5 separate regions of the Homo sapiens genome follow, and all the other regions are linked to region 4. The links come from fine-mapping of genetic effects on gene expression. A gene starts in region 4. Each other region holds a variant in brackets. All regions are shown on one strand. Distances are from middle to middle. Region 1 overlaps SPTLC3 (serine palmitoyltransferase long chain base subunit 3). Region 2 overlaps LINC01722 (long intergenic non-protein coding RNA 1722). Region 3 has its middle 13 kb from the start of LINC01722. Region 4 holds the start of SPTLC3 (serine palmitoyltransferase long chain base subunit 3). Region 5 holds the start of LINC01722 (long intergenic non-protein coding RNA 1722).

Evidence for each region. PIP is the estimated chance that this variant, and not a neighbour inherited with it, causes the effect.
Region 1: its variant is fine-mapped to the expression of SPTLC3 in whole blood (TOPMed, PIP above 0.99).
Region 2: its variant is fine-mapped to the expression of SPTLC3 in whole blood (TOPMed, PIP above 0.99). The same link has a PIP of 0.9 or more in blood mononuclear cells.
Region 3: its variant is fine-mapped to the expression of SPTLC3 in CD4 T cells (BLUEPRINT, PIP 0.95).
Region 5: its variant is fine-mapped to the expression of SPTLC3 in whole blood (TOPMed, PIP above 0.99).

The regions. Positions count from the first base shown.
Region 1 is chr20:13,161,806-13,166,911 of GRCh38, reverse strand. It overlaps SPTLC3 (serine palmitoyltransferase long chain base subunit 3), which reads right to left. Exons shown (of 12, transcript NM_018327.4): 12 at 1-2,158. The coding sequence ends at 2,045. It also overlaps a transcript of TASP1 not described here. Among named protein-coding and RNA genes, the nearest start is that of ISM1, 57 kb to the left of the region's middle. The variant A/G (reference allele first, on the strand shown) is at 1,921.
Region 2 is chr20:12,927,497-12,932,604 of GRCh38, reverse strand. All of the region lies in intron 4 of LINC01722 (long intergenic non-protein coding RNA 1722), which reads left to right. Among named protein-coding and RNA genes, the nearest start is that of LINC01723, 20 kb to the left of the region's middle. The variant G/T (reference allele first, on the strand shown) is at 3,011.
Region 3 is chr20:12,963,437-12,968,544 of GRCh38, reverse strand. No RefSeq gene overlaps it. Among named protein-coding and RNA genes, the nearest start is that of LINC01722, 13 kb to the right of the region's middle. RefSeq lists a silencer at 1,730-2,024. The variant AGG/G (reference allele first, on the strand shown) is at 2,477.
Region 4 is chr20:13,006,017-13,011,124 of GRCh38, reverse strand. It overlaps SPTLC3 (serine palmitoyltransferase long chain base subunit 3), which reads right to left and starts at 2,153. Exons shown (of 12, transcript NM_018327.4): 1 at 1,741-2,153. The coding sequence starts at 1,857.
Region 5 is chr20:12,949,183-12,954,290 of GRCh38, reverse strand. It overlaps LINC01722 (long intergenic non-protein coding RNA 1722), which reads left to right and starts at 1,772. Exons shown (of 12, transcript NR_109868.1): 1 at 1,772-2,526; 2 at 3,805-3,891. It overlaps LINC01723 (long intergenic non-protein coding RNA 1723), which reads right to left and starts at 3,951. Exons shown (of 2, transcript NR_109870.1): 1 at 3,530-3,951; 2 at 2,664-2,840. The variant G/A (reference allele first, on the strand shown) is at 2,071.

The DNA.
Region 1 (5,106 bases), 160 kb before region 4:
AGGTAAGTAGTTTCCCACAATGAATTAGACCCAATATCCTCCATGAAAGTAATAATAGTGGACATTCCTGCTCATGAAGACACATGTCTAGGGGCTTAAAACTTGAAGTGTAGATGTGAAGGTGTGTGTAAACATCACAGACAGATCCAGAAAGAAAGGAAGATGTTTATTGCTTTCCATACCTTGTGGAAGGACTAGATATCTCGCTGTCTTTTTGACCTCCTGTTTCCTTTATAGAACGCAAGGCATTTATGCATTTTGGACAATTCATTTAAATGCACATATTCAAGATAAGAACAGTATGTCTCCCTTTCTTTGCATATTTATGACACATTTTATTTGCACAAATAATACTGCATCAGTTTCATTGAGAAAAGTTGGAATTTTGTTATCAAAATCATTGGATGGGAAACTGCATTTTCAGAACCCACTTCTTTTCCTCTTTCACTAACGGTATTCCTTACAACTTGTAAACATTCATGAAGAACTCTATCATTGTGATCCATTTTTAAACCAATGCACCCACTTGGAGTTATAATTTCCCCATAAAAACTTTCCATGCTGATCACTTTTTTTCCTTTAATACGCTTTGAGCATCAGGGCACACTGCTCCATCCATCGCAGGCGCTGCGGGTGGAGTTTCTATCTCAGTGCACAGCATGAAAGCTTGGGTCCATCTGTGCCACACAAAACCAAGCCTCTCTTGAAGTGATTTGTTTACAGTGTCATTTGATGGAGTGGAATGTTCTGCAACTCATTCGAACTGTTACAGAAGCTTTGCTAAAAGGTCACCACTGCTCTCTAGAATTTCCAAATCTGGGCACCCTCTGGGAGCTTGTTAAAGATAAGGTTCTCCATGGGCTTTTTCCATACAAACTAGATCAGATTAACAAGAGGCTACTTTTCCATAGAGGTTTGTGTTCATGTTGAGAAGGAGAGCAAGAAAGAGAGAACACAAGTAAATTACAGTTAGTTACCTCAAAGTGTGCAAGCCCACTTTCTCCCAATTCAGAGGGCATGTAACAAGTGATAGTACAATTTAATAGGCCTAAACAAGTGTGTTGGTCTTGAAAAAGTCAGAATTTGCTTTTAAATGTCCTTCTTGAATCAATGCATTCTTCAAATATAGTCTTGGGAGTCGATTCTAAAGGACACTGAATTTCACCATTTACTCAAAATTCAATAGGAAAATGACAACTAATTCCTTAAGGTAATAGAGGCTGTGCAGGGTAAGCATTCACCGTGCACTGCACCAACAAGGTTCAAATTGTTGTAACTACCATTTTAGTCTAGACCTAAAAGTGTCTTGTGCTTGCTTTCTGCCCCTTTTCTTATGAAACAAACATCTTGAATTTTCCAAACCTCAAAAGCTCAGCTGTAAAACTGTAGGAGACCAGCAAGAGGAAAAGGAAAATTTCCTTCAAAGACGTCTCTAGTCGCAGTTGATCAGTTCTGCTTTCCCCCTCGAAACATTAACTATGTCTTTTGACACTTGTCTGTGAAAAACGTCCAAATGTGACAAATGGTAGAAACAACATTTCTTTACCCTCCTGCCTGGAACTTCCCATGATACAGATGAGATCTAGCTGATGCTTTTATGAGTGGAACAAGGAAGGTGGCTACTGTCCACCACACTCACTTACATCTGCAGATGGAATAAGTAAACACATAGTGAACTTACTGAATAAAAATTTTAAATTCTCTCATTTGCATTTGGTTGGAATCCCTGAAAGGGTCTGCACAGTAGCAGCTAAAACACAGGCTTATTGCCATTAAAAATATTCTCAGAAGTGTGTGTGTGTGTGTGTGTGTATTTCTAGTAGAATACTTGGAAGAAGAGAGACTTAAATCTGGAATCATGTTTTTGTCTCTGCAGTCCAAGCTGGAGACATTAAAAACAACAACGTCTCCCTCAGTTCA[A/G]TCAAGCTGGTCTGGGAACCAAAATTGTCCTGAGGAAGGGGGAGAAATCCATTTATATTCCTTGTGAGGCAAGGAGGGAGGTCTTTCTCGCAAAGTCTTTATGTGTCATTCAGGACCAGGAAACTTAATCTTCGAGTTCAAAGCTCGTCTCATCATAGAGCTCAGGACGTGCTGACTTCTTGTGCCGGGAATATTTCAGTTGCAAGAGATCACCCATTTCATCAAGAGCTTCTAAAACCTGCAATGAGATTGCTTTCCAATAGCTATCATTGAACACCTAAGTAGCCCTGCTTTGCAGAGCCCAGATTAATAGCAAGCCTCACAAAGACACACAGTCTTAGTTTGCTAGCTTCTTTGATTTTAAAGAAAAGAAGCAAGATCCGTACCATTAGGTTGTGGTTTAAGACCCTAGAGGAATGTTAGATGCTAATTAATTTTATTTAGTGGTCTAACTCCATACTATGAATGTTTATTTTATTTTGAGAGTGTGAAGAGAAGAATAAAAACATGTGACCCATGCTTACCCTTAAAAGGTTTTATTTTAAAATGTAGTGACTTATATGTAGTCTTGTGGAAGAAAAAGATAAGGTTGCAGAATGCATTTGAAGTTATATCTTCATGACACAGCAAATCACCTGGCCAAGAACAAAGAGGAATGTTGCGGGAGCTGATTAACATCATCCTCTGTCCTCTCATGCTACCCCAGGCCTCCTGCTTTTAAATACTCATCTCTGTGTCCCAGAAAATACTAGAACTTAACTCACAGGGACTGAGAACTTGTCTGTTTCAACTCTCTTACTTTAGGTGGGTACATGTATCCCCCATTTTGCACATGAAACAAATGAGATCCAGGAAGTAAAAAAAGGTCATTTTCTGAGAACACATGGACACAGGAAGGGGAACATCACACACCAGGGACTGTTGTGGGATGGGGGGAGTGGGGAGGGATAGCATTAGGAGATATACCTAATGCTAAATGACGAGTTAATGGGTGCAGCACACCAACATGGCACATGTATACATATGTAACAAACCTGCACGTTGTGCACATGTACCCTAAAACTTAAAGTATATTAATAATAAAATAAAAAAAAGGTCATTTTCAATTCTAGTATATCACCAATCCTGTGGTATTGGTCATGCCTTTTTAACCTTTCTGAGCCTGTTTTTCTTAACCTGCCAAATGAGGAGGAAGATAATATTAGGGTCTAATGCTTTGAAAAGGTAAGGTGAGGGTTGTTAATGTTAGAATGGGTGACTAATAGATCTTATGGACTTTCCTCTTTGGGAAATCTTTCAAACTGACATTAATTAAGATTTCCTCCAACTTGTTAACAGTAATTGATTTCTTGGTGGTAGGAGTATGAGTATTTAAAATGTTCTTCCCTGTTTTTCTAAATTTCCTACATCAAATCTCAGTACTAAGAAAAAGTAACCAAAGTTATCTTTAAAATGACACCTCTCTGGGATAGTTTCTAGCAATCTTTGCTGAAGGTGGGGGATGGACTAGTTCAGTGGTATCCAAAGTGAAGGATCTGCACATTTGGGGCATCTGTGAGATAATTTATGGAGGATGCAGGAGGAAAACATTAGGATTTCTATTTTTTTTTTTTTTTTTTTTTTTGAGACAGCGTCTCACTCTGTTGCCCAGGCTGGAGTGCAGTGGCATGATCTCGGCTCACTGCAACCTCCGCCTCCCGGGTTCAAGTGATTCTCCTGCCTCAGCAGTTCGAGTAGCTGGGATTACAGGCACATGCTACTACGCCTGGCTAATTTTTGTATTTTTAGTAGAGATGGGGTTTCACCATGTTGGCCAGGCTGGTCTCGAACTCCTGACCTCAGGTCATCCGCCCACCTCAACCTCCCAAAGTGCTGGGATTATAGGCGTGAGCCACTGCGCCCGACCTCTATTCATTTTTATCTCAACCTTTTAAACTTTTATTTGTGTGTCTCTTATATAATGTACGTAATATATTGGTATTGCATAGATCATTTATAAAGAATTTATGTTAATGTCTGCTGATCCAAGACCACCCAGAACACACTCGTGCTCAGAGTTAGGTTTCTTTAGCTTGCTGAGATGGGAGAGGGAGGACACTGCAGAAGAACCGTGGGCATCTTAGTGACAGGAAGATGGGAGTGGCTTCTCACTGCATTTGAGCTTGTGCCTGAGATGACTCTAAGGAAGCAGGGACCAGTTCTGGGTTGGATGCTGTTAAGAAGTGGGAGCAGTTCACTGGCTGGCTATATATTTATAATTTCTATCTGAAAGGCGAGAGAATGAAAGCGAGGCTAGAGTTGTTATTGGTGAATGAGCAACTGTCACACATGTCAGTCAGAAGAGGGAGACATTAAGTATTGTGGCCTTGTCTCTGTCTTGTCCAAATGTGGTCGCAGAGTGCATTTGTCTAATATTATTTCTAGTCTATGAGCCTTTAGGTTCAATTGCTACCTTAATGTACTGGCTGTTCATCAGGGTCATTTTCCATTTTCTCTTACATGTACATTAAGGAACTGCTCAAAATTTTCTGTTGAGATGGGCACATGATCTCAACAGTTTAGAGGCATTTGTCTAGATGACTGATGTCTCAGTATCCTTTCAAAGCAGGTGTTTTGCAGCAATTAAGAAGTTGTGAAGAGAATCACATACATGAATACCTCAGTGCTGCTTGGAGCACAAAATTACAAATTCATCCATGCTGTGTGTCCCTCCTGCCATCTCAGGGAACTTGCTTCCCGGCCATGCTCTCTTCTCTCCCTTCTGTGCAAGGTCCCCTCTTCACTGTCTTCTTCCCTTAATGTGTAAACATGCTCAAGCCTTCTACATTTTCAAGGGTATTTTCTAAACCTATTTTTCTTTCTACAGTCAGACTTCTTGAAAGTTTTGCCTGTCTTTTCTTAACACCAACTCATTTCATTTAAAAGAAACAATTTGTTAAAATTCACATTCTGGAAATACATACTCATTTTAGAGAATCTGGGAAATATAGAAGGGTGTAAAGAAAACAAAGTTCACTCATCTCAAAATCTGGTTAGCTCAGTTGTTAACATGCTACTCAATAATTTGTACTGTGTACCTACTGTGTACAATACAATGGTTTATGTTTTGAGGCTATACTGGTGAAGACGAAGGACATGGCAACTCTGTGTGTGTGTGCGTGTGTGTGCACATGTGTACGTGTATAA
Region 2 (5,108 bases), 79 kb after region 4:
ACCAATCCTGTAATTATCTTAGGAGGCATTTTTGTCAGAATGAACAAGTTGATGCTAAAATTTATATGGATATGTAAAGAACTTAAAATATTCAAAAGAATATTTGGAAAGAAGAATGAAGTTGGAGGACTTACATACTTGTTATCAAAATTTGCCATGTAGCTCCAGTAATCAAGACATCTTAGTATTGCCACAAGCTCAGGTATATAGAGCAACGAAAACTGTAAGACTCTTGTCTCATACTGCACAAAAAATTAACTGAAGTGGATCATAGGTCCATATATAATAGATAAAAACCACAATGATATACTACTAAATACCCACTACAATGGCTATAGTAAGACAGTAGCTTGTGTTGGTGAGGATGAAGAGAAACTGGAATCCCCACACATTGCTGGTATGAGTTTAAAATGGTGCAGCTCCACTGGAAGTAAGTTTGGCAGTTTCTTAAAAAGTTAAACTTACCATGCAACCCAGAAATTCCACTTCTTGGAATCTATTTAAGAAAAATGAACTCATGTTGATACAAAGACATGTCTGTGAATGTTTCTAGCAGTGTTATTCCTAATAGGTCTAACTGAAAACAATTGAAATGCCCATCGATTGGCCAATGGTTAAATAAATGTGGTATACCATACCATGGAACACTGTTCTATAATTAAAAGCACACAACTAATATATGTACTAGAACATGAATGAACCTTAAAAACACTGTGCTAAGTAAAAGAATCCAGACGAAAATAGCCTATGTATTGTGTAATTCCATTTATATGCAATGTCTAGAAAAGACAAGTTTATAGAGACAAAGCAGATGATTGTGCCTAACTAAAGCTGGGGATGGAAGACAGGATTGACTGCAAATGGATGTGAAGGACCTTTTTTGGGGAGTATGAAAATGTACTAAGGTAGGATTGTGGTGGTGCTTGTGCAACTATAAATTTAGTCAATTTGAATTGTACACTTACAGTGGGCACATTTTATAGTAGGCAAATCTTATTTTAATTAAGCTGTTAACTGTGAAAAGAAAGAAGCAAAAAGTTGTTCTCCCTTTGAAATGTTAAAATAATATGTGTTCTTAGAGAAAAATAATAAAACAATTCCTTTTTTATTCTCTAACTTTTTGTGTGTCTGCAAAAAGAAGTTGGTTATTTTGATTAGAGATGATAAGTAATATAAATATTATATTATATATTATAAATGTAATTCACATATTGCATATTGATAACAAATTATATATTTTATATATTTATAATATAATTATGTTTTATATATTTATAATATGAAGTACTATATATTACATTTTATAATATATATTTGTTTAATTTAATATAAGGATAATTAATATAAATATTTAATTACACAAGGTATGATAATTAGAGAAATATGAATATGAATATGAATATATAATTTTATGCTTAAGAAATGTTTAATAGCTTATTCATGGGACAAAGTTAATATGATATGTATGTATTATTTAATATGCTGGTAAGTTAGTTGTTTTTTAAAGCTATGAGTAAAAGTTTTAACATTACTTATTTTTATACTTGTCTCTGCATGCCTGAATACATGCAGAGACATGTATTCAATTTTTACTCCAAATTATTACAAAAATGACGTAAAACAGAAAAAAATGAGTGTCATTTTTATGTAACATGACTGGCCTATTTTATGCTTAGATTGTAGAAGTTTCTTTTTGTGATTTAATTATTCTGTTAAATTTTGGTGCCTTTTGTACGCACTTAAATCAGTTTTCAAGAAACTTCATGTTTAGTTTTCTTAATTGATTCTTAATTAGAACAGTTACTTACAAAATATTTATAATGTTGCCTGAAATTATTTGACTTTGTATCATGTCCTTTATAATGATTTTTTTTACCCTTCCAAAATTCAGAATAATTTTGCTCTTTCACCCTATAAAATAAAGGAAAATAGGAATAATTAGGTTTGTTGAAACTCTTCAGGTTTTAAATACTTCAAAACTGTTATGAGAGTCCTTCAACTTTGGGATTTAAAAACATACAAAAGATTTTCCAAACATGTCAAATCCAGAAGAGAGCTGATGTTAATTTTATATTAGTAAAAAGTATTACTAGAATTAGCTTTTAGTAATCATATACTTTTCAAGTTAAAAGAAGTATGTTCCTTTTTAAGCATACACACAGAAACAGTAACTATTAAAAGAATTTTCTCCAAGTTTCTAGATTCACAAATCCCTTTTTACTTTTTGTTTATAAAAAATCTCAGTAAGTGTTGACCCAATTATGTGGGAATCATTAGGGACCTACTGCTTATTTTAGTCTTTTGTTAGCTCTAGTAGCCAAGCTATATCGACCTTGTTTAAGATCTATAACAGCAATAGCAAAATGTATGAAAACTTCCATTGACTTAGTTCTAGGATCTCTACTACACTTAACAATTTCTCATCTTACACAGATTCTTTTATTGACAGTCATGTGACATCTATGAAATATTACCGCCTTACCCTTCAAAGGTCTACATCCATTGCTGCTTCCCTCTGAACCCAGGCATCATCTTTTTTATTTTAATTTGTATTTTATTTTGTTGATTGATTTATTTTTTATCTGATGAAAGAGGACCCAATAATTTCCAGCCTTTTGGGAACTATTCACAATCATGCAAACCTTCTAGCCAAGATAAATGTGATTTTATTTTGATTTTATGTGGTTCATACTGAAAAAGAAAAGCTAAAAATTATAAAGCCATTTACGTGATCAGAAACTTAAATTTGGCCTTGCAATACAAGCTTCTCTCAGAAATTGAATAATTCCAGTGGGCTGACTTAATTGCCCTCACTCAGATATGTCAGCTGCCCAGAGATAAAGAAGGTGTTATAGCACGTATGATTTTTAGGTTAGTTCATGACTTTGAAATGCTTTAGAAGAAAAGAGATGTCCTGACTAATACAAGATGGTGAATTAAAACCCTAATTTGCCTGCAGACAGTGCGCTCTGGATAAATATCAGATTAGCAATGTCTCAGCAATGGTAGG[G/T]ATCAATGATCTACATCCTGATGCCTGACTAGTTTGCTTTGGCCAAAAGAGGGTAGAAAGAAACAGAGACGCAACCCTTCATATTTGAGAACTGGTCTAGCACTGTTAGTTCTTGGTGTTGCTAGGAGTAGAACAGGCACTCACAGCTAGGTCATAATATTCTCTGGCTGAGTATAAACAATTTCACTGAGTACCAGCATCAGAAAAGGCCACTCTGTGATGGTGGTGAATCAAGACAAAAAGAAGACCACTCCAGTCATGTCTGAATGCAGACAGAAACGTGAACCTTATCTAAACTACACAAATGACCAAACACTCCTCATTCCCAGCTAATATGTGTAACAGTGGCTTATTCACCAACCACAGCTTTAACCTTACTTCCTTCCAAATTGTAGATCACATTTTTAAAGTATTCAATCATAGTGTTAACACCACTTCCTGATGGCCTCCACTTCAGAGCAAAAGTCCGATTCTGTAAAACATCCCCTAAAGCACTGGTAAGCACTGAATGTTTACATTTCTCCAAATTCATATGTTGAAATTCTAACCCCCAAGGTGACTGTGGTAGGAGCTGGGGCCTAGGGAGGTGTTTGAGGAGTGAAGGTAGAACTCTTATAAATAGGATCAGTGTTTTTATAATAGGGACTCCAGAGAGCTCTCTCACCCTCTTTCTGCCATGTGAGGAAACAGCAAGGAATTGGCATTCTGCAACTCAAAAAAGGATCCTCCCTGGACCCCAACCATGGTGGCATTGTGATCTTAGACTTCCCAGACTTCAGAAATGTGAGAAATAAATTGCCGTTGTTTATAAGCCACCCAGGCTACAGTACTTCGTTATATAGCAGCCAGAGCTGATGAAGACAGGAATCTAACTAAAGTCCCACATCCTATACTGTCTTTTTTAACATGCTCTTACTGAGAGACACCACAGTTCTCCACAGTGTTTTCCCTTATTTCAATGAGTGAGAAACAACTTGTTCAGCCACAGGTCTGTTTCTGGTGATGTTGCTGTAAGATGCCACTGTGGGCACACTGTCTATGGGTTAACCCTCCTCTGCAAGGAGCAGTGCCTCTGTTGCTATAGGCTACTGCTTCAATAAAGTTGCTGTCTAACACCACCAGCTTACCCTTACGTTCTTTCCTGGGTGAAGCCAAGAACCAGGCTAAGCCCCAATTTGGGGGCTTTTCTGTCCTGCATTGCTTTGAGGTAGGGTGAGACTCCTCATTAGAGCTCAGAGAAACCCTCTTGCTCAAAATTAGAATAACTGGTAAATCATAATAAAAAATAATAAACATTTACTGAGCCCTCACTATACCATGCATTCTTCTGAATCTTTTGTGATTTTAACCTTATAAAAACTCAGGGGCAGGTGCTACTCTTAGCCTTATTTACTAAGGGTAAGACTGAGCTACAGAAGTGTCCAGGGAGCTTGCCAGAAGTCCCAGAAATAGGAGAAATGATGCAGTGCATTGGCCTGGGCTATTCTGGTCCAGGGTCCATGCCTTTACACACCACAGTATGTGTCCCAGTGAGAACCTGGCCCTTCCCTCTCCTTCCATGTCCAGAGCTCTCAGCCTGGTTCACAAAGCCCTTATGCTTGAATTTCTCTCCTTGAAAGTAGCAGGACAATGTTGGGGCAGTGAGTTGAAAAGGAAATTGAACTGTCCAGCCCTGGCAGAGACTCCTTCAAATTGTGACATTTCACATTGCTGCTAATTTCTCTTTTGCACAAAGTTGTGAACTAAAAGCAGGCTGAAGCCAAGGGTGGCTTGCAGGTTCGACCCATTCCGGTCAGAGGCTGCAGTTGCTGTGAATGTATCTGAGTTTCTCACTGACTTATCTACCTCTGCCAGTGGAAGCTGGACCACTTATGATTCAAGCCTTGAGTCATTAGTTTTCTTCCACACCCATGGAAATGACAGCTGGGTTGATTCCCAGTGTGTGTCAGGATGAAGCCTGGTCCCCTGTGGTGTTTAGTGTTCCTGAGGCCCTGAGCCCCCCGCAGAGGATGCATCAAGGGTGTAGTGACTGTTCGTGGGGCAGCGACATCCCAATAGACAGCATGCTTCTTTCTGCAAAAAATTGATTTCTCTGAGA
Region 3 (5,108 bases), 43 kb after region 4:
GGATCAAATGAGATCATTTATGTGAAAACATCTTTAAACAATAAAGGATCATATAAACATGAATGTCTGCTGACTTTTTAAAAAAATCTTCTTAACTCAATGCTTCCGAAGCTAGTAAATTAGAGTTCTTTAGTTACAATGCATGGTTCTGCATAAATGCAGGAATATTGGGTGAAATGCTAAAATTACTCTTCATGCAACTTACTACTTTATTTGTGTATGTTGGGATTAATATTTTGAGACATATTGACACATTTTTCTCTTTTCTGTTTTTAACTATATTGCCTTCTCCATAGTCAGCCTGAAGCATCCATTGCCTTGGGAAGATTGGTGAAGTGGAGAGTAGGGGATGGGAGGATGAAGAGACATTAGAATTGCTATAGCAGAAATCCAAAGAGAACAACATGACTTGCAAAATTGTTGTTGTTTAATAAGAACCTTGAGAGTCAGCCTCTATTATGAGAGAAAAGATTTTCTAAGGTTCCTGTAGGCCCCATTGAGCAGACTAAGAGTTGCACCTACAGGCTGAGATCACAGGCTTTCTTCTACAGCAAAGAAGACCCCTCCTGTCTAGGACCACTAAGAGAGGAGTGGTTGGATATGCAGTGGAAGAAAGAAAAGCTCAGTGGGATAGGATAGGCTATAATACAATAAAGATGAGAGCCAAGCCTGAAGATCATCACTTTACATATCCAAAGTCAGAAAAGGAAGGAAGGCAGATATTGGAGGGAGTGAACATGTCAGTTCTTGAAGTTCTTACCCCCAGGAATGTGGCAGGTTAAGTTCATCCAGAGAGGTATAGAGTAGCCCCAGATTACTGGGGCTGCAGCCTGTTTCTTGGGCTTCTGCATAGACTCTAAGGAAGGAAGACTCTGCAGGTGGCCACTTTTAATATGGCGATGGGCAATGGTGCTCCTACAGTGGCCAAAGACTGATGTAATGGTGAGACGCATGGTCAGACATGTGTCTGATATCCCTTTCAAGACCTATTTCGCATTTGGGATCCTGGGAGGAGAAAATGTCACAGTGATAAAGGCATAAGACGAGAGGGCTTGACACTGAATGTCCTCAAGCTATCCTTAGTTCACATATGACATGAATGGGATCCAGATATACCCACATGTTCTTAAAGAGGGGAAATAGAAATAATGGTGAGAATGGTCAAGGATGTTGCAGAAAGGTTATCATGGTGGGGAAAGAAGCACCATCTTGGAATCATCTGGGTTAGGATTAGGAACTTGTACTGAGAGAGGTTCACAGCATCATTCGGAGCTAATGTATTGATGGGGGCCCAGTCAAGAGAAAGAACTGGGTTCTGTTCAGCTGTGCATTACCTGAGTGAAAGCTACCAGCAGCTGGTGAAAGCAGGGTGTGCTTGACTCTTGTCCTAGGACCAGCATGAACTCTGATGCAGCTCTGAGATGCTCCTCCCCCGTTCCCTGGCCATGAGATGCTTGTGCCCCACACCTTCCATGTCCAAATGCCCAGATGCTCTCCTGCTGAGGGCAGAGAAGGGAGAGAGTGGCACAGTCTGACAGAGTGGGTGTTTTACATAATGAATAGTTTATGCATGATTAAGATATTAAATCAGACCTAGGTTACTAGACTGGATTATGTCAATTACTCCCACTCTAAGATATAGTAACAGAGATGGCAGGGGCGTGGTGGTTTTGCTGTGCTGATGATGTTCTATTTCTTGCTCTGAGAGCTGACTCCCTGTCTTTATTTTGTGAAAAATCATGGAGATGTATATTTAAGACATTTGCACAGTCCTTTAAATATGTTAGGCTTCAACCAAAAGGTTTGAGAATTCTAATGCCTCTGAACCTACTTGTACATTCACAAGGACATACACATACAACCCAGCAGATGGCACTTATGAGAAGCCAAAAGTCCATTTTAGAGAAATAAAGATGCTGTCTTTTCTCCACACATTTGAGTGCAATGTGAGTAAATGTGTGACTTTACTTCCTGAGCTTTTGCTAAAGAAAGTGGGTCAAAAATCTGTGAACCTAGAAGACTCTCCAAATGCAGTGGCAATGATGCCATAAGGAAGAGTTCAGGCTCATTTTATATTTAATACTCTCCAAGTAGTAAGTGCTCTAGAATCAACTTCAGATGACAGAAATTAGAGATTTAGTCATTATTGTATCTGTATATTATAACTACCAGTGTGTCAGAAATTGAAACACAACTTTATATTTTATCATCATTTTTATATATTTTTAGATATAGCACATAGTTTCAAATATTCTTGGAGGCCTTAAATTAACTTTAGCTAAAATCTTCCCTGAACTGGCAGTAGTCTTATAATGCAGCAAGGTATGGTGGGAAGAAGAAAACAGAAAGAAGAAAGTGGGTCAAGTCCATACCTCTTGGTGTGACATTAGTTGAACTACGTAACCTCTCAGGATGCTTCTTCACCATTGAAATAATCCTCACATCTGCACACCCGGCAGCCTTGTGGTGAGAACAA[AGG/G]AGATGCTGTGTGCCTAAGTCCTTTGCAAACTGCATTCACAGGACGCCTCTTGATCATTGCAAATCTGTCTTGAGAAATGAAAGGCAGAACACGTCCATCCTCTGCAGCTTTGTATTTCTAGAGCTTTTGTGCCCTGCTAGGTCATTAAAGGAGGCAGTATTAAAATTCAATTGGCCCCTGATTAATTGTGCTTCATAATCTGTCACATGAAGTGATGTATCTATAAAATAGCTTGTGCAACATGGAAGTCAGCTGCTTTGTGGGTATGATACAAAGTGGGAGTTGCAGAACCCTTTCTTTATATTTAGCCCTGCACAAATGTAGCTGACACTGCTGGTGCTCATCCACCCTCCCTCCCCTCACTTCAGTGTATACTCATAGATTCCAGCTGCCAATGCCTATATCACTGTGCCTGGGAGCTTTCTCTGGTGAGCAAGCCTGGCTGAGCCTGCTCATGGACAGTGCTGAAAGTGTCAAAATGAATACCCCTAGAAGCAGCAGTCAATGAGTATCCCAGCTCTCTTACCCCCAGAGAGGGAAGACCTTTGAGGCATCTGTTCTGCACTAACTCCCAGAATTCTCTGATGGGACTGAGTCCCAGTCACTCCAGTGCTGGCTGGATTTTATTATCATTATGGTTGATTTCCCTTCTGTGTCTCACTTCCTCACTGTCCTACTTGTGTTTCCTTTGCCTCAGAGATATGCTAATTGTCCTCAAATCCCTGCATCAGGGTCTGCCTCTATGGGATGTCAAACTAAGACAACAACCAGCAATATTAGCTTTAATTTTTGACTCTTGAAGTTGGATTTGTTGCCTCACTTGTGGGCTTCCTTAGGTTCAGAACTCTTCCTTCCCACTGCTATGGTTTGAATGTCCCCTCCAAAACTCCTGTTGAAATTTAATTGACATTGTGATGCAATTAACAGGTGGGACCATTAGGAGGTGACTAGATCATGAAAACTTTGCCCCTATGAATGGGTGAATGCTTACTATTGCAGGAGTGGGTTAGTTATCTCAGTCTGATCTCCCTTTTCTCTCTCTGTCCCTTACCATGTATTGCCTTCTGCCATGCTGTGATACAGCAAAAAGGCCCTCACTGTGTAGCCCCTAGATGTTGGATTTCCCAGCCTCTGGAACCATGAGCCAAATAAGCTTCTGTTCTTTATAAATTACCCAGTCTGGTACTGTTTTACAACAGCAGAAAATGGACTAAGCTAAGCCATCCACCCTTCATGCCCTACCCTTCATGCTCCTTAAAAAAACTGAGATTTCCTATATATGCTAATTTATTAGGGAGGAATGAGACATTTTAAGACCTGTTCAATTGCTGTCTTTCTCATTGATTCTCTCTCTGTTTTTTTCTCTCCCTTGTTTTCAGCACTTCACATACCTTCCCTATTCTTTTATGTATCTCTGGACCTCAACCTCCCACTCCATGTAAAAAGAAGACAAGTATCAAATGATGCTTCCAGAAACTTATCACAGGATAAACACACTCTTGAATAATAGTATGCCTCTCAAAATCATTTTTTTGAAACTAAAATATATAATGACTTCAGACATTCACTTCTGAATACAACATGAGCTGAAGTTCTGTTAGTTGGCATAGTCTTTAATGGAAGAGGCTCTTCTCGAGTCACGTGTTACAGTCTAAGCTCTCAGGTAATTTAGGAGAGCTCAGACACAGATCTCCTAATGGAGAATAGACACAATGGCTTTATTAAGACATAGACAAAGGGAAATGCATTTTCTAAATGAGCTACTCTTTTTTTTCTTCTCTTTCATTTGAATATCATGGCAAATGTCAACTTTCGAGTAGTTTCATGGGGGAATAAGGACTGGCTTATAATCACTAAATCACTTGGAAACTGATCCCTCCATAACCAAGCATCCAACATGAAATATGTTTCCTTTGTTTCAGGAAAGAGGAAGAGAATACATTCCCTCCCTGAGCTGAGGGGATTTAACCAATAACAGTGACACCAAACCTGGGTGTCTCTTTATAACTCAAATGCCAGGAAGAGTTATTTATTTATTTATCTTTTAAATTTTGTCCACTAAGTAATCCAGATTGATGTTTGAAGAACTCAGAGACCTTTTCAAACTCAGTGGGACTGAGAAACAAAAGAAGGAATCTTTTGTTGCTGCTGTTGATGTTTTCTCCAGAATTAGAGAATCAGAAGGGGTGGTTCATGGCCTTGTAAAGCTTCTTCTATAAAATTCAACAGAGGATCAGAACTTTCAGAGTTCTTAAATTCTCCCTTTGAGGATTAGGGGGTAGTAGTTTATAGAGGTGATAGTACCTCTAAGTTTTCAGTAGGGAAAGGCATTTCCCATAAAACCATAGGGTGTGTGACTAAAATATAGTTTTGTTGTTGTGAGCATATCTTAAAATTTTATGGCCTGATTTTTTATTTCTTTGCAAAACCGGTCTTACCCTTTTACTTAGTCAAGCATGTTTGCATAACTCCCTTACAAAAATGCCAGAGTCTCTGAAATCTGCTGAACACAGAGGGTCTCTTTGATGAGGAGGGAATCAGCTGTCCCTGTGGTATAAAGCCCACTTCCCGCACTGTGGGAATTTCCATTTGGTGGGACTTTAAGGTCCCTATGTGCTTCAAGTGTTAA
Region 4 (5,108 bases):
AAAATATTTTTTAAGCCATAATTGAGGCTCTCAATGAAAGCCAATTGTAGCTTAGTGACACCTAAATATGTCTGAGACAAGAGGCTCTGGATGGCCCTTCAGGAAGGCAACAGCAGCCCTGATGTTTTCGACCGTTCTTAGGGAAGCCTCAGTGTCCAAGGATATTTACAGTCTTGCAGCTGCACTTCATAATGAACCTTTAGAATCCTGGGTTTTATCCTTACTTAGGAGTGGTTATAACTGTCTAAGTTTCTAATCTCATACCTCGAATGTGATTATAAAACCAAGATAAAATAAATAAAAGGGAGAAAAGTTAAGAAGGAATCTCTTCCCAGATGAGATCCCTCAGGGTCAGAATAATCACAAGGGTAAGTAGATGAATAGCTTGTGAGTTACAGGCATTCCAGAGGCAAGGATCGTCTTGAGTAGTGGCCTGAATTGATATTTAGTGATGCATAAGTGGTGGATATTACTGCAATTTCCTTCATACAACTGACAGGAGTTGAGCACCTTCTCTTCACATTGCTCCAGGTTTCAGATCCTCAGGTGGGACAGGCCAGTTCTGAGGTTTCTGATAGACACCTCCCAGCGTTGGACAGTGCCTTTTGTTAAGAGGGGAATGCTTTTGGGGACCACAGCCTGTTTACACACAACTCAGGCTCTAGAGCTCCTTTAGCCTCTTCCAATTGCACACACGAATGTAATTCACTGAGAGGAGGACTGGCCCCAGCCAGACCCACCTGTCCTGTGATCTTAGAACAATCTGCCTTTCCTGTGGGTGGATACTTGCTCTCTGGATGATCAAATGATGGAAGATTGCATGGGGCTCCCTGTGCCACTTCTCTTTCCAAACAGGAGGCTACCTGTTTGACTACTTGGGCTTGCTCCTCAGGCAGATGAGCTCACTTCTGCTGCTCAGAGCAGAGTGACACGGGATGTCCTGTGGGGAGTGGGGAACTGCCTTACATAAGGACCTCACAGACCCAGGCTCTCTCTTAAAACAAGCTGACAACTTTCCTCGAGTTCCTCCTGCCTAGGACACTCTGCAAACATCCCGGTGCAATAAGAGTGAAAAAAAAAAAAAGTGTCAAGTTGGAAAATACAAGTTTGTTTTAAAGATGCTGTTCTGTTTTCTGAGAGCAGTGTGTCACAATCAGCCCTGCTTTCTGAAGTGTTTTGGAAAAGAATGTCTGTGACGTCACATTTCAAAGAAATACTGTGGCCTCAAATCAAGTAGTGAGCTAAAACAATGCTCCACTACACACCAATAATAACTCGCCTTTCAAACAGTGATGCATTTCTCATGGACCTGGGAAGAATGCCATCTCCACCACATAATGTCAGCAAAATGTACTTTCACTTCCTCTTTTTCTTCTGAAGCATGACGGTTGTAGCAGGTCTCTTGGACAAAAATATATGCAAAGAGTTGGAACTTTCTTAATTCTTCCCTCCCCGCAAAATGCTTGAGACAAAAGTCTAGTAGGTACATTTGTATTTTAGGGAGCCTGAAGCTGTGTGAGTCTGTGTGTATCCTCTTTTGCATACAGAAGACATTTTCTCCTTAATCCACACCTAAACTTTTTGGTAGCCAAGCACTTTCTATTAACAGAGTCAACAGTCAAAACATGTAAAAACCCTTCATAAGATGAACTCTAAGTTAGGACAGCCTCAAATATCTTCACAGAGAAATATTGAAACGTTCAGGTAATTCAGAGAAGAGTAGGGGAGAGTGCCTCTTACCTGGGCTTCCTTCACTATTCCATTCTTTGTGCAGTTTCTGCTTTGTGAGCCATTGCTCTGTTTCTTGTGATTGTGAAGTTTCCCGTTGCAAACAGCACCACCTCCAGGGTTAGCCATGGGTGTGAAGTGACAGAGCCCGGGACAGGTTTTCCTTCAGAGGTCTCTGCAGGCTTTAGTTTTCAGTCTGCGAGGGGATGGGATAAAGCTCTTTGGGGCTGAGCCCTTAAAGGAATCTTACCAATCAGGCTTTTCCAGAAGAAGAGCAACAGCCTATCTTTTTGTCAGATCGTTGAAACTAAAACAAATGGTTACCTTTATACTTCTCAACTCCCGTCAAAATGTGAACTCCATGGCAACAAACCTGCTTCCGAAACTGTAAAGGAGATTGTCCATGCTGGCTCCTTCTGGGGACTGAGGGAACCTGGGGACTGAACAACCCAGTGGCAAAGTGTGAGGAGGCGGGCTGGGAGGTGGAGAGTCTTTTAAAGACACACACACACAGCACACTCACAGAGTCTTCTAAGTAACTGAGTTCTGAGTTAACCTCTTTTTCCCACCCCCTCTCTCCTGCATGTAATTGTGGTTTTTGGTTGTAAACCAAGCTCAAAAGTTAATATTTCTTTTTGCTATAAAATAGCATTCAGAGGTGGTTGCCAGGGCCTGGAGGGATGAGGCAAAGGGAAGTTATTGTTTAATGGGTACAGAGTTTGAGCTGGAGCAGATGAAAAAGGTATAGTGATGGATCAGTGCACAACAATGTGAATGTACTTAAACTAAACTGTGCACTTAAAAATGATTAAAATGGTAAGTTTCATGTGATGTATACATTTCCATAATTTACAAATGATTTGAAAAGATTTTTAAAAACCCAGTATTCAAAACCAACCTATGTTAAAATCAGTACTATAATAAGGGGGTACCAATCCATCAAGAATTCCAGTAAGACAGATGTTGAGGAGACAGAATATTTGATGACTGCGTTATCTTTATCTCGTGACCTTGGGGGAGGTATTTACCCACTTTATGCCTCAGTTTTTCCATCTATAAAATATCTGCTGAGGTAGAACAAAAATCATGCTGTAGCTTGGGTTTGTTACTGACGCAGGTGTGAGGTGGTTGATGACTGCAGGGTCCCAGTCCTGAAACACATCTGGTTTACTCACTAACTCTTATTCTCTCAATGCATGAATCTTCAAGGCTTTGTTTCTTCCTACCATCATCAAATGGCATGGTGACATGATTTGCTGGAGAGTCATTACAACCTGTTGAGTCTTCCCAAGTCCACCCTTGTGGTTTTCCTGAGTCGAGACTTCTTTAGCATCAGACTCTAAGAAAAGAAACCAATTTATTGGGGCAGTAGACAAAAACAAACAATCAAACACACACACACAAACAAAAAGAAAGAAATGGCCCCTGTTTCCAGAGCCTCATGTCCTGTAACTCAGCTCCCTTGGACAGGGTTCAGTTCTACTCCAGATTAATGTAGCTTTTGGAGGTGGACATGCTAACGCTTCTCCTAACTATGACTTGCATATGAGGGTACCTGCCTTTACCATCCCAAGGAATGCTGGAGGAATAAGATAAGGCCTGAGGCCAAGGTGAAAGACGGAGTTAATACCAAGTGTGTTCAGCCCAGTTTGTGTCTCAAGTTCAAAAATTTTATCGCATTTCTCTCAACCTTTATCATCAAAGTAGAAGTAGATTTTCACTGGTCTCTCCCTTCCATGGCTGTTTCACTGAGATTTGGGGGCTAAACTCTTGTAGGTTTATTTTCTTCTAAGATTTAGGAAATGGAGAGATGAAGAGGTAGAGGGGAGCACTATTGTTGGCCCAACTGCCTCACGTTACTTAGAAAGACAAGTTGAAGAGAGGGCGTTATTTTCCCTGAGCTCTATTGCTCAGTGCAAAGCATTTTTTTAATAAAGATTTTGAAATAAAACTTTTTTAACATTAGATGTCTCTTTTCTTTCTTCTTTTCTTCTTCTCCATCTCTTTCCTCTTTTCACATTTGTCCTTTTCCCTTTCCTCCCCCACCCTCCTCTTCTTTTTCTTCTTCTTTTTCAAATTTTCTTTTTACAAGGGACAAAAGGTATATATAAAATAAATCTTAAAACACAGCTGAATTCTGCTTTCTCCGTTTCCTTCCCCTAATTGCAATTGCTAAGGTTAGGTAATCACACATAGATTTCTGAGAAATATCTACTACGTGCTCTCACTCTTGAAACTTTTCTATTTTACTTACCGTATTGGAATGTGTGCATTGTTGTGTGTACAAAATTATATTAACACACCAACCATTTGGCATCAGGCACTGCTGGTATGTATAGTCAGTGGTGACTCATTGCTTCATACCATCTCCAGTTAAAATAAGCGAAGAGTTCTGTTGAAGTCAGTGGTAGGTTTAGGTTTAAGGTTTGGAGCAATACTAAAACACAGACTAAATATTGAGCAAGATTTGGCATCTCTGAACAACTAAATACATTTTGGATCAACTAGTAACCTCAGAAAATGTTTGAATAAGTACTCTGTATTTGCTGAGTCCTTGGTTCTCACAAGGAATAAAACATACACAGTCTCCACCTTCACAGAACTAAGACTCAGCAGTACCCACATGCCTTCTACTTAGGATATCTTACTATTAAAGGTAGAAATAAATCTTCCCACTAGTACATTAAAGGCAAAGATGATAAAATTAGCAATGGCCTTGTGGTGTTCTCCAAAGTAATGGTTTTGCCCAGATGCCAGATTCTCAGCTCCTCTCTTAATGAAGCAGCCAAAAAGGGAGATAACAGAATGAGGATAGGCAAGAAAGGGAAGGACAGAGGCTTGGCAATGTGTTGTGAAAACGCTCTTGGAACAACTTGGGGATAGAGAGTTGGCAAAAATGGGAGGATATGAGCAGAATGAACTGTCAGAATTGTACAGTGTACAGAAATCTGTTCATTCTCAGTGACTCAAGTTTTACCCATGTAATGGAGAGTGATGCTCATGCAAAACTAAATTTTCAACAGGTTAAGTGACTTTTCCAAAGCCACAGAATAATATGTGGTAGAAGTGGGTCATGAACTCAAGAATGTCTGGGTCTAAGTGAGTGCCGTTTTCCTTACACCATGACACCTCTCCTTCAGCTGTTGACTTGAGAACCATCAACCACCAAGAAAAGAAATAACAGAATCTGTTATTATTTGGGAGATTTCATTGGATTGGCCAAATAATGAATAAAAATGCTTTATTTGCTTTTTGATGTTTAAAAATTTGCAATATATTAAATTTTTTTACAAATGACTAATGACATGTCAATATCTACTAATAAGTCTACGTGGAAGTACTTAAATTTCCCGAAGAGTTCAATCTGGAAAAATTCTCAT
Region 5 (5,108 bases), 57 kb after region 4:
ATCCCAGCACCATTTGTTGAATAGGGTGTCCTTTCCCCCACTTTATGTCTTTTTTTGCTTTGTCAAAGATCAGTTGGCTGTAAGTATTTGGGTTTATTTCTGGGTTCTCTGTTCTGTTCCATTGGTCTATGTGCCTAGCTTTATATCAGTACCATGATATTTTGGTGACTATGGCCTTATAGTATAGTTTGAAATCAGGTAATGTGATGCCTCCAGATTTGTTCTTTTTGCTTTGGTTATGCGGGCTCTTTTTTGCTTCCATATAAATTTTAGAATTGATTTTGTAGTTCTGTGAAGAATGATGGTGGTATTTTGATGAGAATTGCATATACGTACAACAAATAGCACTATGAATGGAACAGTATCTCACATTTCAATACTAATATTTAATTTAGATGGCCTAAATGCTCCACTTAAAAGATACAGAATTGCAGAATGGATAAGAATTCACCAGCTATTTGCTGCCTTCAAGAGACTCACCTCATCAGAGAAATGCAAATCAAAACCACAATGAGATACCACCTCACACCAGTTAGAATGGCAATCATTAAAAAGTCAGGAAACAACAGGTGCTGGAGAGGATGTGGAGAAATAGGAACACTTTTACACTGTTGGTGGGACTGTAAACTAGTTCAACCATTGTGGAAGTCAGTGTGGCAATTCCTCAGGGATCTAGAACTAGAAATACCATTTGACCCAGCAATCCCATTACTGGGTATATACCCAAAGGACTATAAATCATGCTGCTATAAAGACACATGCACACGTATGTTTATTGAGGCACTATTCACAATAGCAAAGACTTGGAACCAACCCAAATGTCCAACAATGATAGACTGGATTAAGAAAATGTGGCACATATACACCATGGAATACTATGCAGCCATAAAAAACGAGGAGTTCATGTCCTTTGTAGGGACATGGATGAAATTGGAAATCATCATTCTCAGTAAAGTATTGCAAGGACAAAAAAGCAAACACCACATGTTCTCACTCATAGGTGGGAATTGAACAATGAGAACACATGGACACAGGAAGGGGAACATCACACTCTGGGGACTGTTGTGGGGTGGGGGGAGGGGGGAGGGATAGCATTAGGAGACATACCTAATGCTAAATGAAGAGTTAATGGGTGCAGCACACCAGCATGGCACATGTATACATATGTAACAAACCTGCACATTGTGCACATGTACCCTAAAACTTAAAGTATAATAATAATAATAATAATAATAATTTAAAAATTAAAAAAAAAAGAGACTCACCTAACACTTAAGGACTCACATTAACTTAAGGTAAAGGGGTGGAAAAAGAGATTCCATGCAGATGGAGACCAAAAGCGAGCAAGAGTAGCTATTCTTATATCAGACAAAAGAAACTTTAAAGCAACAGCAGTTAAGAAAGACAAAGGGAGACATTATATAATGATAAAAGGCCTGTTCAACAGGAAAATATCACAATCCTAAATATATATGCACCTAATACTGGAGCTCCCAAGTTTATAAAACAATTACTACTAGATCTAACAAATGAAATAGACAGCAAAACAATAATAGTGGGGGACTTCAATACTCCACTGACGACACTAGACAGGTCATCAAGACAGAAAGTTAGCAAAGAAACAATGGATTTAAACTATACCCTAGAGCAAATGGACTTAACAGATATTTACAGAACATTCTACCCAACAACTACAGAATATACATTATAATCATCAGCATATGGAACTTTCTCTAAGATAGACCTTATGATAGGCCACAAAATGAGCCTCAGTAAATTTAAGGGAATTGAAATTATATAAAGTACTCTATCAGACCACAGTGGAATAAAACTGGAAATCCACTCCGAAAGGAACCTTCAAAACCATGAAAATACATGGAAATTAAATAACCTGCTCCTAAATGATCACTGGGTCAAGTATGAAATCAAGATGGGAATTAAAGAATTCTTCAAACTGAATGCAAATAGTGACACAACCTATCAAAACCTCTGGAATACAGCAAAGGCAGTGCTAAGAGGAAAGTTCACAGCTCTAAATGCCAACATCAAAAAATCTGAAAGAGCATAAAC[G/A]GACAACCTAAGTTCACACCTCAAAGAACTGGAGAAACAAGAACAAACCAAACCCAAACCCAGCAAGAAAAAGGAAATAAACAAGATCAGTGCAGAACTAAATGAAATTGAAATAACAACGAAAAACAATACAAAAGATAAATGAAACAAAAAGCTTGTTCTTGAAACCAGCTTAATAAATAAAATAGATAAATAAAACTGATTGAACATTAGCAAAATTAACCAAGAAGACAGAAAATCCCAATAAACTCAATCAGAAATGAAATGGGAGATATTACAACTGACACCACAGAAATACAAAAGATCATTCAAGGCTACGATGAACACTTTCATGCGCATGAACTAGAAAACCTAGAGGAGGTGGATAACTCCTTGGAATGATATAACCCTCCTATCTTACAACAGGAAGAATTAGATACCCTGAACAGACCAATAACAAGCAGCGAGATTGAAATGGTAACTAAAAAAATGTTTTATATTTTAAATCCCTGTATGTACTTCTCTAATTTTTACTCCAAATATACAAGATATGTTAGTGTGTAGGAAGCAAGTGTAAGTTTGATGTTCACATAAGAAGCAGTATCCAAGGAGAGTACCATTGAATTGTGACCTTATGTGTCATTTATTGCATTAGGAGTGAGCCAATGTTTTACCCTTTGAGATGAGCAGATTGCTTGAGGGGAGTTAAAGTCCTTACATATGTCATCAGCAAACCATTTTCACGGACTGCTGGGCAGAATTTAGGCAGATCAGGGAAGTGATGACAATGGCTAGAAGAAGGGTAGAAAGGGAGAGACATAGGTGAGAATGACAGACATTCAGGAGGTGCATCAGTGGGAGCAAGATACGGCACCACAAAAAAAGACCCGGAGAATAATATACTGTAAAGCCATATTTACAATTTATGGACATGCAAATCTATTCAATATATTGTTTAAGAGTACAGAAAGTTGAAGTCAAGCTACAAAGAATAGCAATTGATAAATAAACATAAAATTCAGCATAATGGCTACCGAGGAGGTGGTTTTTTGATATAGGGGGTGGGGGCCCACAGAAGAAGGCTAAGGTAAATACTGCTCTGTTTCTTAAGACAAATGATGGCTATGCTGGGATTCTTTAATTAATTATCTTTGTGCTTCGAGTACACATTTTATGCATTTCCTCTAGTGAGTCAGATATTTTATTTTATTATACTAAAATAGGAAAAGTAACTGGGCATAGAAACCTTAAGTTATACTGATAATTTTTGAGAGCCTGGGCTACAGTACTGAGCCCTTTCCTATAAGGCTCTTTCCTGTTTTTATTAAAAAAATTAAAAAAATGTTTTTTAATAGGAAGTTCCTATAAAGAAAGAACTGCTGCCTTGATCCCCAAGTTCAGATCCCAAATTTCAGAGCCTCTTCCATCCATATCCACTTACCTAGGCTGCTCTTCCCTAAAGCCAAGCCACTCCACTCACCTGGGGGCTCCAGGCCTCCCTGTTCCTGCTCATCACAGCCTCACATCTTGGCTGTCAGTCCCTGAGCAGCCAGAAAGATCAGGAGTAGGGTGAACACAGCAGAGATGGCCAGGACAGTGGAGACTTGTTTACTGTCACCATTGGGAACCTCTGAAGGTGCTTTAAAAGGGTGGGGCCAAAAGCTGGGGGCAGAGTCAGAACAGCTGGGGCAGCAGTAAGTCTCTGACCCCTCCCCACCCAGTGATTTTGGGAAGTTTTTCTGCTTGGCTCCTCAGACCCAGCTTGCCCCTCTGTCCTGGAAATGAGCCTCAATTAATTTCTCCCAAGAAGGTGGGACATCTGGCTCCACTGGACAGATGGAGGTGAGATGGTTGAGAGGGAAGCAAGGGTGGAGGGAGTCAACGGCTGCCGCTGGGTGTGTCTCTCTGGATCAGAGACCACTTGAGAAGAAATTCCGGTGACGGAATCACAAGTGGGGTGGGGGAGCATTAGGTCACAATGGTCAGATTGTGACCCACATGGAGTGGAGCTGGGGATTGGCCAGCCAGGAAGAGGGGGTTGATAAAAGCCAGGTTACCAGGGAGTGAGCCCGGCAGAGAGGGGCTGGGCTTGAAGGGATGGGGTGAAGGGATGGTGATGATTGGGTTCTGGCTCCTGCTCCAAGGCCCTTTCATGGAGACTTATTTCCCATGGTCCTCTCCTAAGGAAAGCCTCTCCACTCTCACCTGCATCCTGCCCTGAGTCTCAGCCTCTGACTACAGTCTATAGTCTACAGCTTCCCTCTCCCCACGTCCCAACCCCAGTTTTCTTAGTTCCTGGCTGCAAGGATTTTAGATCCTCCACTCAATTTCCAAAAATTTCTCCTGGCACCAGCTTCTCTACCCAGCATTTTTAGCCTACCTGTCAATCCTCCCCTATATGTCCCATCGGTATGGAAGTCCAGATGACAGTCATTGATATGCTGCTTGCATTTTCTGAATCACTATGTCAATGAGAAATGCGCCCTATCAGAGCTAACAGAGCTTCACAGCAAGGTCATTTTGAAGATAACCTTCTTCAAAATGAAGAGTGAGGAGGACATAAGTGCTGTAGGATCAGTATGTGAGGCTACCACAAACATGCTGTGGTTTGCACATTCTTTGAGGCTTGCAGAGAGAAGCCTGAAAAACACGGCTGATGTCTTGGCAGAATTTACCCTGGCCCCCAGGCTGGTGTACAAAACATCTTCATGACAAGGTGTCTTGCTGGCCACTCTTAACCATTAGAAGAAACAGATGCCATGGAACTTTGAAAAATCAGAAAGTGAATGTACAAATGGAGAACCTTTGAAGACAGCAGAGCCCAATGTGGGTAAATGACATTGCTCGTAGGAAGGAAACAGTGTTATGGAGCAAAAGGGGCTCACTGCCTGATGCACTAGAAGGCAATACTAGGACAATGGGTTTTGAGAAAATAAAAGCCTTACACTGAAATTCAACAACCAAGAAGACAGGAGTCAAGCTCATCTGTCTCCTGTGTTGGCTCCAAGGCAGTTTTTAGAAAAGTTTTATGGGGTGGATACTGGGGTTAGCAGGTGATT